Linked DNA regions of Homo sapiens: region 2 is linked to region 1. The links come from fine-mapping of genetic effects on gene expression. A gene starts in region 1. The other region holds a variant in brackets. All regions are shown on one strand. Distances are between the middles of the regions.

Evidence for each region.
Region 2: its variant is fine-mapped to the expression of HTR3B in whole blood (TOPMed, PIP above 0.99).

Annotation. Positions count from the first base shown.
Region 1 is chr11:113,901,034-113,909,343 of GRCh38, reverse strand. HTR3B (5-hydroxytryptamine receptor 3B) reads right to left here and starts at 4,548. Exons shown (of 9, transcript NM_006028.5): 1 at 4,359-4,548; 2 at 1-49. The coding sequence starts at 4,410.
Region 2 is chr11:113,956,600-113,964,935 of GRCh38, reverse strand. No RefSeq gene overlaps it. Among named protein-coding and RNA genes, the nearest start is that of HTR3A, 14 kb to the left of the region's middle. RefSeq lists enhancers at 1-73, 7,341-8,226. The variant A/C (reference allele first, on the strand shown) is at 3,727.

The DNA.
Region 1 (8,310 bases):
TGATACAGAGCAGAATCCTGGGGATGATGTGTATCTGTGGCTAGAATTCCTGGAAAATAAACTATCATTGTGAAGATAAAAGTAAGAGGAGCTTGGTTTCTTTAGGAGGTTTCAGACTGTTCAGGACTCGGTGGCTTTTACTAGAATATAGCTTTCAGCTCACCAAAATCTGCATCAATTCACAGCCAGCTGGTGGGGCCTTTGGCAAATGCTTAAAGTAAGCTGATGGCCTAAGTGCCCAATGGAGAAACCTCATTGTAAAAACAAGTAAATCAACGCCATCTCCAAGGTTGGAAAACTGTACCTACAATTCCATTTTACAACAATCTTGCATTTTGGAGACAGAATAATTTCTTTATTCCTGTATCATCCTCTCCTAGCATCTAGAAAAAACCCACCTACACACTTAGCCAAAACTTAACTCCCGCGTTGGTTTTTCTTTTGATTTTTCATGCGTAATTCAAAAATTCAATAGAAAAATCAAGCAAAAAAACATGAAGAAACCCATTAACCCAAAAAACTTGTATAGATTTCTAGATAAAGGGATTAACGAGAGCCCAATTTGTACTTTTCTCCTCAAAAATCTCTTTTCTCATTTCATCTGTCCTTAAATAAAATGCACTTGTCAGAAAATGAGATCTTTGTTTTGAGAAAATTCTCTCTGGTTCCAGGGAACAACCATTTCTTCTGACCCAAAAATCTTGATTTGTAGAGGAGCTGTGACTGGTGTTGAGGCCAGGGAGGCCAGAGGAAGGGAAGCAAGAGAAATGAGCACCAGCAATTGGAAGTGACAAATTTGTGAGGGCTTTCTCTGAATTGCAAAAAGATATTTTGTTCACAAGCTTTGCCAGCCCTTAGGGGATTCAATGCTTCACTCAGTCATTGGACCGAAGCAAATTGCACACCTCCTGACAAAGTGCGTGAGTGAAATCTCTCTGTAGTGTCCTGCGTGTGAATTTGCCTGGGCTGTCAGTGGTTTTGATGGTTATTTTGATGAGCTGCCAAAGGTATGAGGGATCCAGCAGGAAACTGTAAATGAGATCGCTTCTCCCTGTGCGACAATCCTGTTTATACCCATTTCTTTATGAATGATGTCATGTCACTTGCCGCTACAGGCAGCAATTTCTATGATTTAACAATGTCAGTGTGACCAAAACGCTAACAACAATGCTGGAGGTACAATGCCAGACTCCTTGTGGGCAGTGCAATATACACTTTCATTACCGTCGGAACTGGGAATCTAATGAGCATTTTAACTCCCTAACAATCCACCCAAGAAGATGCCTAAAATGGCGTTAGCTATTCAGGCGTGCAGGACTAAGGTGTGTGGCTTGCATCAGGCATCATTTGTAGGGTTTTTGTGAACTGTTATTGTCAAAAAGTGTGCTGTGAATCTCTCTACCTGAGAACATTTCTCGCTGGTGTACCCCAGGGGAGGGAAGTCAGGAGCACAAGGCAAAGCTGTCCCAGTGCTTTTCCTGCCAACTTTGCTGTGGGCAGCTTCACGTTTACCTCGCTTGGAAGCTCCCAATTCAAGTCTCAGTTGGGGAAACACCGAAATGAGTATGTTTCAATACAGGAAATTACCCGAGACAGCATTAAAACATAATTCTGAGAAATGAATATGTGTTCCTCGCACTGTCTGCTCACAAAGACTCAAATTCCCCTCTGCGATCTTGTCTAGGAAGCAATCCATAGATTCCCTATGGATAAACTCATGTTTTCTAGAATGGGTCAAAATCTTGGTTAAAAAGAGAAAGTTCTGGAAGCTAGGACTAGGAACAAAAGAGAATCAAGCACTGAAAGGAGAAAAATAATAAGCAAATGGAAATATGCTTAAATAAACCAAAAGGGGAAAGAGTTCTTTGTTTAAGATGGGAAGAAATAATAAATTACATTTCTACTATGAATGCAAATTTGCCTGAGGAGAAAGATCAATTACAGGAGAGAGATTAAGGATTTAAGTGACCATTAATTAACAGTAAATTATGCCCCTTGAAAGCTAATGTGACATTCACACAAGCACTAAATGACTCACAGTTCAGTGATGTTTCAACAGACACTGATGGAAGCTATCAACAGACCCAGAAAAGATTCCTCGCCAAAACTGCCTTCTTGAATGCTAATAATCAGCTTCAAATGATTCACTTGTAAGATTTCTGGAAAGTAGAATGTGTTAGGGACTGAGCTATGAAGCACTTGCAGGTGAAGAGAGATTGAAAAGGAGGAAGATAAGAACACAGTAAAATTATTCCTGTGTTTTCCTTGTTTTAATGACTTACTCTCCCATGCACCTATCTTAAAGTGTTCAGGGCACTTTGATGGAAAGCACTATTCTTGCTTTAGTCACTATGTATCTGTAGGATTATAAGAGAGTTACACATATATCTGAGAGGTTAAAAGGAAATGAGATTTATGTATTGAATTCCTAACACTAATTGAATGCTGACTGTATGCCAGGCACCAGGCTAAGTCCTCACATGAATGATCTCCTTCAAAGTTCCCAACAAACTTATGAGACAGGTACTCTACAGCTCTGTGAGGAGTGCACTATTCCTGCAGATGAGGGACTATTGGCATAGTGAGCTTAGCACTGCCCAAGGTCATGAAGCTTGCAAGTGAAGGGAGTGATATTTACACACAGCTGGTCTGGATTCGAAGTCCAAGCTCTTAATCATGACGCTACATGATTAAGTGTAACCTGGCTCCCTGAGAATATCAGGAACAACAGCAAGTAACCTTTCAAAAAGAAGACTGACATGTTGTATGGAGTATATTATTGGACAGAAATAGCCAGTGGTATTTTCTGCATGTGTTTTCAGGTTAATAATATCTTACATTTGCATTTCACCTTACAATTTAACAATGCTGTCTTATCTGATTGTCATGAATATCCAAAATAAAGTTAGCTTACAGGAAAACTGAGTCTCTAAGAGATTAATTGACTTCCCAGGGTTACGTGGCTGGTGAGTGGTGAAGCAGGAATTAGCTGGCTCTCCTTGTTCAGGCCTCCTTCTATACCAGCACACTGCCCCCTGGGATTGGTTCCGTGCTCTTACACTTAACAAATCATCTTGATTTGTAAATATAGTAAAATACGTAAAGTAAACATAGTAAAACCCAGTACAATTCCACAGGGCAGGTCTTTCTGCAACAAGTATCCACGGAATGATTTATGGTAAAGCACTGGTTATCAGACACTATTAAAACACTTCTTTCTGCTACATTTAGAACAAAAATCATGCATAATACAAAACATTAGAGAGATATTGTTAAGAACTTAGTCTGTTTTCTTACCTTCATTTTTCTATTTTATCTTAGTTTAATGTTCACGATTATTTTCTACTAAGAAACCCATTTGGCATTTAATGACACTTCCTCTGTTTTTATTTTTTACAATTAAGATATGCTTTTATCCTTTATGTTCAACATCCAGGATTTTTATACTTTAATGATAAGTGGCTATTTTTCTTCTCTACCCAATAAAAAAATCATTTCCAGCTTCCTGGCTACCAAATTTCTAACTCATCTCTATAATTGACTCATTCCACTTCCAGTTACATCCTAAAACTTGAGAATTCAGATATGAGCTCTAGGAGAAACCTCAAGAAAGTGGGGTGTTGAGAACACCAGCATAATCATAAATTCTTGATTTGTGCGCATGTACTAAGAATCAATTGTATCCTAACTAAAATGATTCAATTCAGTAGAGTTAATACTGGTGCCATGGAAATATAGTTCTAGAAATTTAGAAAAAAAAGTATTAACTTCTAAATTACTTTTAAGAGGAATTGTAGACTCAAAACTTACCAGTTTATAGTACCTGTCTTTAGAGATATACTCATCACCTATATAGATTTTGTAAGGCGAGATGTTAAGGCCTCTAATACCAAAATGATATACATATATCTGTAGCCATGACAAATCTAGTGGACTTTTTCTCTGGGCTGCTAACAGCTGATAATGAAGCCAAGACTATTTTGGATAATAAAAACATATTATCCACACATAAAAGCAAATTTGAAAAAGAATGCCCCAAACTCTCAATCAACCTGCAGAGAGCTTGATTTCTAGAGAAGCAGAGATTTATCAAGCAATTATAACATTTCAGAGCATATTTTCAGCTATGTGTAAAAAGCCCCACAGTCTGATGCTATATGTATACGTATTTGCAATCATAGGAGCCAAGTCACAAACAAATCATTGTTTTCCATATAGCTTCACAGGACTGGCATTTTACAGACGATGAATAAAAACAAACATGCCTGAGAAGTCCTACAGTACGGTGTATACAAATATTGTCTCTATCTTCTAAGAGTTAATCCTTAATGCCTAGTAAAATTATTAAAAGGACTCACCTGCAGCCACCAGGATGCAGGCCCACAGGGGAGCCATTACACTTGACAACATTCCTGGGCAGATCCCAAAAAGGAGAAATGCAAACTTGCCTACCAGATGGAATGCCGCTCAATTTCTCCTAACAGGGTTCCTCTCCACTCTGTTCTCCTCCTTCTCCGTTTGCCAGTTGATGCTATCCTTACTGGTGCTATTTTGTAAACACTCAGTGGGACCAAAGGCAATACCAGCACCATGCAAATGTTTTGGAATTGATGCCGTCATGAAATCCCTTAACTTCTCCCTTTGGTTCTGCCCCAAGATCAGACCGTGGCCAACATTTCCATTTTCCTGACAGGAGATAGCTAAGTGAATAATGTAATCTAAGAGGAGCCCCTAAGGAGAGGAAATTCCACACTAATATGATTTCCTTTACAGCCTTTACCTAAGGCAGTACTCTTGCTGACATTCAGGACACTAATTTCATTAATAATTGAAATCCAAATAGCTGTTCTAAATCAGACTTATGCAGTAACATCTTCAGCATTTGACAGTGGTTCTTGGGCTCTTGAATTACACAAGGCTAATGGAAACCTGGTATTGTCTAATGAAGAACAACTGCAAACAATGCAATGGAAAAGTGCTTTTTGTTTTTCCTAAGCCCTTTTAATTAAAAGAAACATTGACTTTTGATAAATAGGAGGGCTTCTCAAATTTTCACTGCTCACAATTCAGAAAGTAACCTTCTAGAAAGGATGCTTCTAGGCTTATTGAAGATGAAAACAAAGTTCAACATCATTTAATAAAAGTTTTTTTTTCACTTTTTGATTGAATACGCATTCATTTTTCATTACTAAGGAACATGATGCATAATTCTATACAATAACACTATTTTCCATTTCTAGACACCCCCAGATGCTCTAGAAAGAAAAAACAAATACCATTTCCAACATCTGCCTGCTTTTTTATTAAAAATGAGATTATAGAGGCAAATTTTGATATAAATTTTCACAGAGCCAACCGAAGGGGGGAAAGTATATATTTGATTCCTATTCTCCTAATCACTCAGTCCCTTTGTTTAGAATCCATGAAGTTCTACACCTAATTTTCATCTACCAATAAAATGTAGCCTAATTGCTTTCTTACTGTTGGTGAAGGGAGTGGTATACACAGAAAGAGAGAAAACTAAGATAACCATTTGGTGTTGACTTGGTTTTGGAGGTATCAGTGTGAACCCATGGTTTTCAGTACATTTGCTAAATATATAAATAATTGCAAATAAGCTGGGCGTGGTGGCTCAAGCCTGTAATCCCAGCACTTTGGGAGGCCGAGGCCAGTGGATCACTTGAGGTTAGGAGTTTGAGACCAGCCTGACCAACATGGTGAGCCCCATCTCTACTGAAACTACAAAAATTAGTCAGGCGTGGTGGCACATGCCTGTAATCCCAGCTACTCGGGAGGCTGAGGCAGGGGAATTGTTTGAATCAGGAGGTGGAGGTTGCCATGAACCAAGATCGCGCCACTGCACTCCAGCCTGGGAGACAGAGGGAGACTCCGCCTCAAAAAAAAAAAAAAAAAAAGAAAAGAAAAGAAATAAATACAAATGTAATGTGTGTTTGCACATGTTCATACATGCATATATTCCCTAGCTCTGTCCACTTAGCAGCCTAGGAGAATGACACCCCAATAGTAACAAGCACACCTAGCTTCCATAGCTCTTCCGGTATAGTCTTGCCAAAAATTCATAACTTGAATCTATTCAGGAGGAAACACCAGATGAGACAGTGGCATACTGTGGGACAAACAAAACAGCAGGCATCTTCAAAAGTGCCAAGGTGGGCCAGGTGCAATGGCTCATACCTGTAATCCCAGTACTTTGGGAGGTTGAAGTAAGAGGACTGCTTGAGCCCAGGAATTTGAGACCAGCCTAAGCTACATAAGGATACCCTGTCTCCACACAAAAAAATAAAAGATTAGTTTAATGTGGTGGTGCACTCCTGTAGTCCCAGCTACTTGGGAGGCTGAGGCAGGAGGATCACTTGAGCTCAGGAGATAGAGTCTGCAGTGAGCTGTGATTGTGCCACTGCACTCCAGCCTGGGCAATAGAGGTAGACCCTGTCTCAAAAACAAAAACACACACACACAAAAGTGCCAAGGTTATAAAAGTTAAGGAAAGACTGAGGAACCTATCAGACTAAAGAGACACAAGCACAATATCTGATTCTGAATTGGATCCTTTTGTTATAAAGAACATTTTGGGAAGAATTGAAACTCGAATGAGGTATGTGGATTAGATGGTAGTAATGTGGCAATGTAGTAATGTTGGTTTCCTGATTTTAATTGTATAGAGATTATGCAAAAGAATGTCCTTGTTTGTAAGACCAGCACACTAAGTATTCAAGAATGAGGGAAGATCGCACACAGTGGCTCACGCCTGTAATCCCAGCACTTTAGGAGACCTAGGTGGGTAGATCACCTGAGATCAGGAGTTCAAGGCCAGCCTGGCCAACATGGTGAAACCCTGTCTCTACTAAAAATACAAAAATTAGCCCGGCACGGTGGCACATGCCTGTAATTCCAGCTACTCAGGAGGCTGAGGCATGAGAATCTTGTGAACCCAGAAGGCAGAGGTTGCACTGAGCCGAGATCACACCACTGCACTTCAGCCTGGGCGACAGAATGAGACTCTGTCTCAGAAAAGAAAAAAAAAACAAAAAACAAAAACAGGGCACATCATGTTGATCATGTCGCTAACTTATTCTCAAATGATTGTGGGGGTCTAGGGGAATTCTTTGTACTATCCATCCAATTCTGCTATACATTTGAAAATATTTCAGAAGAAAGAGTAATTTAAATGTAACTTGGTGGAGGAACTTTGGTACACAGTTATGGAAAGTTTATCTGAGAAATACTCTTTAGAGAGGGTGGGCAGATAAATGGGGCTTCATCAAGAGGGAAGATCATAGAGGACTGATCTGGCCCTCAAAGTCTCAGCTCTTCCTATCAGTTCTTTGAATTGTCAGCTTCTACTTATGGGATGAATTAGGACAAGAGAAAGGCAAGCTACAGGCAATATAGCTATGTAGGTAGCAGTTTTTATGGGAAAGCAATGCAGAAGCATCCCTTTATGCAAAGGTTTAATTGAGGCGATGATCGACATTGCATTCTTGCCATGCATTGTAGTAAGCTATGACTCTAAGTCAAACCTTCTGGGGACGTGCTTCCCTCCCTTTTCTTTGCACTTTCTGATATGCCCATCTGTTACTGGAAGGCCATTACTAATGATGTGTAATACAGGTACATTACAACTTTCATTAGCTAACTTAACAACAGTCTAGTAATCCTGCCCATTATGGCTCTTTATTGGCTGATGAATTCTGTCAAGATGGCAATGATTTTGTATGAGTGACTTGTCTTCAAAGTAGTTTATATACAATGCTTCCTGATCTTTCCTTGACAGCCTTGCTCTGTACTGTCAGCTGGCTTAGATCTTTCTTTTTCTAATCTTAGTGTCCTGTCTGGACTTTGTTTACTCAGTACTTTTAGCTTTTTTTTTTTTTTTCCCTAAGAGGCAGAGTTTCACTCTGTCGCCCAGGCTGGAATGCAGTGGTGTGATCATGGCTCACTGTAGCCTCCATCTCCCAGCCTCAAGCAATCCTCCCATCCCAGCCTCCCATAGCTGGGAGTATATGTGTGTGCCACCACACCTGGCTAATTTCTTCTCTTTTTAGTAGAGATGAGGTGTTGGTATGTTGCCCAGGCTGGTCTTGATCTCCTGAGCTCAAGTGATCCTTCCGCCTTGGCCTCCCCAGTAGCTAGGAATATAGGCATGCACCACTACACCCAGCTCATACTCAGTTCTTTTAGGTTTGGTATTGCTCCTCTCCCCACCCTTCAGTTTTTCACAAAAATGGTCCCTCCTCACTATCTTACATACAGCATTTTTCATCCACTAATATGGTTTGGCTGTATGTC
Region 2 (8,336 bases), 56 kb before region 1:
CCCACTGAGGAGGTCACGTCGCCCTCCTGCCCCGGGGCCACTGTTGTTACCGGGGGTCCTTGCTCCCAGAGCTCCCAAGATGGTGGCGGGCGCTTCCAAAGTGGCGGCGGGCTGCTTCCAAGATGGTGGCAAGCCTCGTGTTCTCTGACCTGGGGTTCTTGGCCTCACGGATTCCAAGGAATGGAACCTTGGGCCCTGCAGTGAGTGTTATAGCTCTATTAGGAGCCGTGGGTCACAGAAGAGAACCGTGGAACCCAGTGACTAGTGTTCAGCTCCATTAGGACGAACCTGGGCACTTAGCCATGCGGGAACAAAGGCAAGCCTTTAGCCCAATCAGGAGTGGCAATGGGGGCCTCACTGGATCAGGAGCACAGCAGACAACCTGCTGGATCCAGAAGGATGGAAGTCAGCGGCAGGTCTGCAACGGCGGCAAACAGCAGTGGGGGATGGAAAGCGAAAGATCAGCTCGAGCGGTAACCAACACGGACCAGAAGAGAGTGTAGTTGCAAGATTTAATAGAGTGAAAACAGAGCTCCCATACAAAGGGAGGGGACCCAAAGAGGGTAGCTGTTGCTGGCTCGAATGCCTGGGTTTATACCCCATGGTTGTCCTTCCCGCTGTGCTCTCAGGCAATAGATGATTGGCTATTTCTTTACCTCCTGTTTGTGCCTAATTAGCATTTTAGTGAGCTCTCTTTACTACCTGATTGGTCAGGTGTGAGCTAAGTTGCAAGCTCCGTGTTTAAAGGTGGATGCGGTCACCTTCCCAGCTAGGCTTAGGGATTCTTAGTCAGCCTAGGAAATCCAGCTAGTCTTGTCTCTCACTGTGTCATTCACCTCAGCATTTGTGGGAGGGCAGCCCATCCCCAGCCGAAAGCAAGACCCTCAGCACATCCCAAAGGACACAAGCCTGTCTTGGTGTCCAAGTCCTCCAGAGATAGAGATAGCAGAGAAAACTCCCTCGGGCCTTAAAAATCATCTAGTCCAGCCTCTTCCCAGCACACAAACCTTGATGACATCCCAGCAAATGATCTTTCAGCCTCTGCAGACCTCCAGTGATGAGACCTCTCAGGATAGCCCATTTCATTTTTGGAGAACTCTTTTCTACACTGATCCCCAAAACTGTTTCCCTAAAACTTCCACCCATCCGGTCCTATCCTTTGGGACTAACTTCTTTTTTATGTGAAAGTCCTTACACCATAACACCTTCTCTTCTCTGGGCACAAACCCCTCAATTCTTTCAGCCCCAAGTGTTGGAGCTGGAAGGACTCTGGACAGGGAGGGCAGAGACTCATCTTAGTGTCTGCAGTGCTGGTCCATGTGCTTGGGGCCTCAGAGGTGCTAGTCAGAGCCTGTGGAATGGGTGGATGAGTGAATGAATCTGGTGCAAGCTGCACAATTTATAAGTGAGGAAAGTGAATCTCTGCAGTGATAGGTGACTCGAGCAAGGTCACACAACACCCAACACAGGAACTAGCTCCCAGTTCGGAGGATTTTCGTGAGTCTCGTACCAGAGTGCTTGCAGCCCTCATTTGCTTTGTCTTCTTTTTTCTTTTCAGGTTTGGCCTGGTTAGTTGCACAGAGGCCCTCATAGCTCATCTGGCCCCTGTTACCTCTTTGTCTTCTCCTGATGTGACTTTCTTTCCCCCCCCCCCTCCGACTAGACAAGTCGTCCAGGAGTATCGCCCAGGCTGGAGTGCAGTGGTGTGATCTTGACTCACCACAGCCTCCACCTCCTGGGTTCAAGCAATTCTCCCACCTCAGCCTCCCTGGTAGCTGGGATTACAGGTGCCTGCCACCATGCCTGGCTAATTTTTGTATGTGTAATAGAGACAGGGTTTCACCATGTTGGCCAGGATGGTCTCGAACTCCTGACCTCAAGTGATCCACCTGCCTTAGCCTTCCAAAGTGCTGGAATTACAGGCATGAGCCACCACACCCGGCCTGCTGTGACTTTCTCCATCAGTCTGCCCACTCCAACCTCATGGCCTTCCTTCTGTTGCTTGCACAGACCAGGTGTGCTCTGCCTTACAGCCTCTGCCCCAGCTCTCCCCTCTGCCTGGAGCTCCCCGCTCTGCATGTCCACTTGGCAAATACCCTCTCCTTCAAGTCTACATAAATCTCCCCTGCTCAGTGAGGCCTCCCGTGGCTACTCCATATAATACCCTCATCTGCCCCATCCCACCTTCTCATGCCTGATCCCTCTTCCCCTGCCCTACTTTTTCTATTTTTCCATAGCCCCATTAGTACCTAACATTCTACACAGTTAACTTCTTTTGACTTCAATTGATTCTTTACTGTCTGTCTCTAATGATGGAACTTTAGCGCCATGAAGGCAGGGACCTCTGTGTGCTTTGTTCACTGATGTATCTATCCCAAGTGCCTGGAATAGTGCCCGACACATAGTAGGACCTCAATAAATATTTGTTGACTGAATCTCCTCCTCAGAGAATCTGCAGGGCCCCAGGTCTGAACTGCCAGCCACAGGACACGGACGCCGAAATCATGACTGCTAATAGATTGGTTGATTCCACGACATGTCTCTTGGAGTCAACTCATGTAATCATTGGTTGATTACATGACAGTAATCATGACATGATTACTGCTCTGTATCACTGTCTATTGGGCACTGGCGACATGGCTGAAGGGAGATGTGTAGACAGGCTTGCTGGGGGTCATCACACAGGTTCCATACACAGCTAGGCCTGCAGGGTGCTTCCTACCCCAGGGCCAAGTGGAAGATCTATGGATGCAGTTGGGTTCACGGTTGATATAGTTTGGATGTTTGTCCCCTCCAAATCTCATGTTTTGAAATGTGATCCCCAAGGTTGGAGGTAAGGCCTAGTGGGAGGAGTTTGTGTCATGGGGGTGGATCCCTCTTGAATGGCTTGGTGCCCTCCCCATGGTGATGAGTGAGTTCTTGCTCGAATTGTTCATACAAGAGCAGGTTGTTGCAGAGCCTAGCTGCCTTGCCCTCTTTCTCTTTCCTCTTCTCTCACCATGTGAAGCCTGCTCCCCTTCACCCTCCACCATCAGTGGAAGTTTCCTGAAGCCCTTACCAGAAGCAGATGCTGGCACTATGCTTCTGGTATAGTCTGCAGAACCATGAGGCAAACAAACTTTTATTTATAAATTATCCAGCCTTGAGTATTCCTTTAGAGCAATGCAAGATGGCCTAAGACAATTGTTGCCCTTTTGCTATTCAAACCATCTCAAAAGCTTTGTGTGGTATCCTGAATAATGGCCCCAAAGATACCCAGGTCCTAATCTCTGGGACCTATAGCTCTTACCTTAGACGGCAAAAGGGAAAATTACAGATGTGATTAAATTAGGGATCTTAAGATGAGAAGTTGTACTGGGTTGCCAGGGTCCGTCCTAAATGTACTGATTTAGTGTCCTTATTAGAGGAAGGCAGAAGGAGATTTGATGATGGAAGAGAAGGCTGTGCATGACAGAAGCAGAAACTGGATTTGAGCCTTGAAGACGGAGGAAGGGGACATGAACTGAAGAATGCCAGTGACCCCTAGAAACTGAAAAAGGCAAGGGCACAGATTCTCCCCTGAGAACCTCCAGAAGGAACCAACTCGGCTGGCAGAATTGGTTTAACCCAGTGAAACTGACTTCGGACTGTTGACCTCCCGATCTGTAAGACAATAAACTTGTGTTGTTTCAAGCAGCTAAATTTATGGTAATTCTTCACCGTGGCAAAGGAAAACGAACCCATGCC[A/C]TTCCACAGGCAGTTCTCATTTTGCAATCACCAGCACAAACCCTAGTTTTGTTTTCTTACATCACACAAAACCTCAGACCCTCGGAGGCCAAGGTTGGGGCGGGAGGACCCTGCAATATCCTGAGTGATTTTCAGCCCTTCTGGCCTCCTGTTCCTCCTCTGGAGTGCTCTCAGTTGAGCTACCCTCTTCTTCCTCCTCCTCTGGAGCGTTCCACCTCTGTAAATAGACCCTGAAGTGTCTTGCTGGCCTGGAATAGCTTCCTGGAGAGGACCCTCTCAATCTTCCTGGTTCCAAGCATTTAATTAGTCTTAAATGAAGAGTCCTGGAGAAGCGCTCAGCAGTCTGCGTGTATGCTGACATAATCACATTTGCACATTGGCTGTTGCCACTGATTGTCCTCCTGGAAATTTTCCTTTCTCTCTGGGTTCCCTGAAGGTGGTTTCATGCACTCAGAGAGCAGCAGCATTTCCCAAACTTGTCCTCTTGTTTCAGAGGACTCTTCTAAATCCCGTATCTTGATTTGTCATTGCACTGAAAAAGGGTCGAACTGAACAGCCCCAGAGTATTCCTGAACTTCACACATGAACATACTAATGGCTACGACTCAGTGTTCCTAGGCTTGAGATTTTTGTATATTGTCTCATTTATTCACCACAATGACCCTGCAAGGTAGAATTACTATTCCCACCTTTCCGATGAGGAAATGGCAGCTCAGTGCACTGAGGGACTGAGTCGAGCTTGGTGATTAGAAACTATGTGGTAACTGTGAGCACTGTGCCTCGAATATTCCAGTTCTCCCCCTTTCTGGGCACTTGTAAGGATTGTACTTCCTGGCCTTGTGGTGGTTCGGTGGGTTGCACGACAAGGACAGTAGGACACTGAGTTGTGAGCAGAAAGGACGTGTGTATCTTCTTTTTTTTTTTTCTCCTGAGATGGAGGCTCCCTTTGTCTCCCAGGCTAGAGTGCAGTGGTGCAATCTGGGCTCACTGCAACCTCCACCTCCCGGGTTCAAGCGATACTTCTGCCTCAGCCTCCCTAGTAGCTGGAATTACAGGTGCACACCACCATGCCCTGCTAATTTCTGTATTTTTAGTAGAGACGGGTTTCACCATATTGGCCAGGCTGGTCTCAAACTCCTGACCTCGTGATCTGCCCACCTCAGCCTCCCAAAGTGCTGGGATTACAGGCATGAGTCACCGTGCATGGCATTCCTTTTTTTTTTTTTTTTTTTTTTTTTGAGACAGAGTCACTTGCTCTGTCACCCAAGCTAGAGTGCAGTGGTATGATCTAGGCTCACTGCAACCCCCACCTCCTGGGTTCAAGTGATTCTCCTACCTCAGCCTCCCGAGTAGCTAGAACTACAGGCGCCTGCCACCACACCTGCCTAATTCTTGTATTTTTAGTAGAGATGGGGTTCCACCATGTTGGACAGGCTGGTCTTGAACTCCTGACCTTAAATGATCCACACCTACCTCAGCTTCCCAAAGTACTGAGATTACAGGCGTGAGTCACCACACCCAGCCACATGTGTATCTTTCTGTGCTGTGGTGACTGGTGATGTTCGCAATGGAGGCTGCAGCGGCCTGGGTCTCAGGGCGAGGACATAAGATCAGAGCTGGGGCTGACCTCTGTGGGCACAGAGCTTGCTGTCGTAAGCCACAGAGATTTGGGGATCATGTGTTACCACAGCAATAACCTAGCCTGTCCTAACACCATTCAAATGCCAGCTCTGCCACTTCCTAGCTACATGCCTTGGACAGGTTAGTCAGCCTCTCTGAAGGGAGGATGGATACTGTCACCTACCCCAGAGTTTTGGGGAGGACTTAATGAGGTGATCTGAATAAGATTCTTTTTTTTTTTTTGATATGAAGTCTTGCTCTGTCGCCCAGGCTGGAGTGCAGTGGCATGATCTCAGCTCACTGCAATCTCCGCCTCCCAGGTTCAAGTGATTCTCCTGCCTCAGCCTCCTGAGTAGCTGGAATTACAGGTGTTCACCACATGCCTGGCTAATTTTCGTATTTTTAGTAAAGATGGGGTTTCATCATGTTGGCCAGGCTTGTCTCGAACTCCTGACCTCAAGTAATCCACCTGGCCTCAGTCTCCCAAAGTGCTGGGATTACAGGCGTGAGCCACCATGCTGACCTAGCCCAGCCCCATTTCTGACACCTCTCCCTTCCCCACTTCCCTTCCCATTTACATTTCTTTAGCCTGGGCAGGGAGGCCCCTGTGGAGGCCTCAGGATTCTAGCCCAAGGCAATGTGTGCATCTTCTCTTCTGGAGCGGGGGCCTCTTCCCCAGCTGGGTATAACACTGCATGGGGATGATAACCCCTCACCTTTGCAGCTTTCACCCCAGGAGCCTCCACAGCTCCCTGGGGTGGGAGGGGCGTGGGCTCTTACTCTCACCACTTTGCTTTTCAGAGGAAGCTACTAAAGCTGCTTGATGTTCAAGCAAATAATCCTAATACCAAATTCTGCTCTTTCACTCACTCATTGTGTGATGGTAGGCAGGTTTCTTAAACTGGCTGAGCCTTAGTTTCTGTATTTGTAAATGTAACATACCATGGAAGATGGTCATGTGGGCTAAATTAGCTTCACCATGGAAAGTCCTCATACAATGCATGACACATACACGCTTCCCATTTCAGTAGCTATCAGTAATCATTATCATTGTCTTTAGTGTTATCTTGGGTATATTTTTATTTTCTCTCAGCCTCATCTGCAGAATGAGAGCTTTGCATGAGTTGGTCTAGATTCTCCTCCAACTTCAAGTTACTGCCTCAGACACATGTACACACACTCTCTCTCTGCTGCCCAAAGAAGCAGAGTAGGGGACCCCAGGCCTATAAAGGCACAGTGACAAGCTTGGGCTCTGCCTAGTGCCCTCTGTGTCAAGCTCAGGATGGCAGGGAGAGGGATGTGGTGGCTGAAGCGCAAGGGGGTAGGGTGTGATGGGAGGACAGGCTGCGTGGCAGAATTGTCAACAGGCTCAGGGGGACCTAAGTGCCTGGAGTGCAGCCCCAGAGCCATCTCCTGTAGCCTTGGAAGCAATACCCTGTAAAACCTAATGGGTGTTTGAAATATCACCAGAAAGGGAAGATCAGGAAGACGGAGAGAGCTTTCATCCCTCCCAGGGACCAGGGCTGAGACACGGTGGCGGCAGGGAGAACAGGCCACTCGGCAGCCTGGGACCAGAATGAGAAGACAGAGCATCCAGTCTACAAGAGTGATGCCTCCGCCAAGCACTGGCACCTCTGGGAGGAAAGGGAAGGAGCAGTGGCAGCAGCACAGCCTCCCCTGTCACCTGGGATTCTTTCCCCATCACTCTCCACCACCAGGGCTCTGGTAGGAGATGGTGGCCAGGCACTTCCCTCGCTGCAGCCCAGCTGGCTACCTTCCGGGCAAAATGGCATGGATGTTCCTTCAGCCAGAACTCTCCAGTCCTCTGCCCTGTGCCAGCCTTTGTGGTAGAAACTGGAGAAACAGAAGGATGACAACCGCATGGTACCTCTGGTCTCAGGCCTACCTCCACCTGATGTCTTATGTTTCACGCTCCGGGGAAAGGGAAGCATTTGGATGAACAAAAAGGTTGCATCTGTAGGAGGAGAGTCAGCTAAAGAAAGCTTCTCCCTCAGGAAGAGGGACTCACACAACTAAGGGCACCGGGCAGATGGTCCCTTAAGGTACCATGACCATAAGTCAGCAAGCAGGAGGGCCCGGAGGCTGGCCCAGGGCAGCAAGTGAGCTCTGGGAAACGGGGGGCCACCTGATCGCTGGTGCTGGCAGCCCAGTCTTGTTCTCCAGAAAAGAGGGTGTTCACTGCAGGGGAAGGGGGCTGTGGAAGAGGCCCTCTTTGCCCTTCACTCACTCTCTCCTTGGACGGCACACGCAGAGCCATCTCTGCCATCTGCCTGCAGCCTATAATTCAGCTGCCCAGCTGTGCTGAGTGCTTGACTGCTCTGATTGTGAGGCGGGGAGATTACCGTGTGCAGCACAGTGATTGGCAGGTGCCCCGTGGGCCCAGCTGTCCTGGCAGCAGGGGTGGGCTGCATGTAACGCTGGGCTGCCCCTGAACACCCAGCTCCTCAGGCCTCCCTGAGTCTGCGCTCTCACCTTTTACCTCCATCGTTCTTCCATCCCTGCTTCTCCAAAGACAATGTGCACATCACTCCCCTGAGAGAACACTTCGAAATCAGACTCAGATTCAGGAGGTCTGGGAGGACCTGAAATTCTGCGTTTCTAACAAGTCTCCAGGCGATGCTAATGCTGCTGGTCCTGGACCCACACTCTGAGGAGCAAACCCGGCGAGTTTACAAAGCGCTTTCATATGTGATCTCCCTGGGCTCTCATAACAGCCCTGTGGTAAGGTGGTGATGAAGAAGAATTCCTATCCTTTCAATGCCTGAGTGCAAGGCACTGTGCTCAGCACTTAATAAATCTTATCTTTTCTTTTTTTTTTAATTATACTTTAAGTTTTAGGGTACATGTGCACAACGTGCAGGTTAGTTACATATGTTTACATGTGCCATGTTGGTGTGCTGCACTCGTCATTTAACATTAGGTATGTCTCCTAAAGCTATCCCTCCCCACTCCCTGAGAACTGAACAATA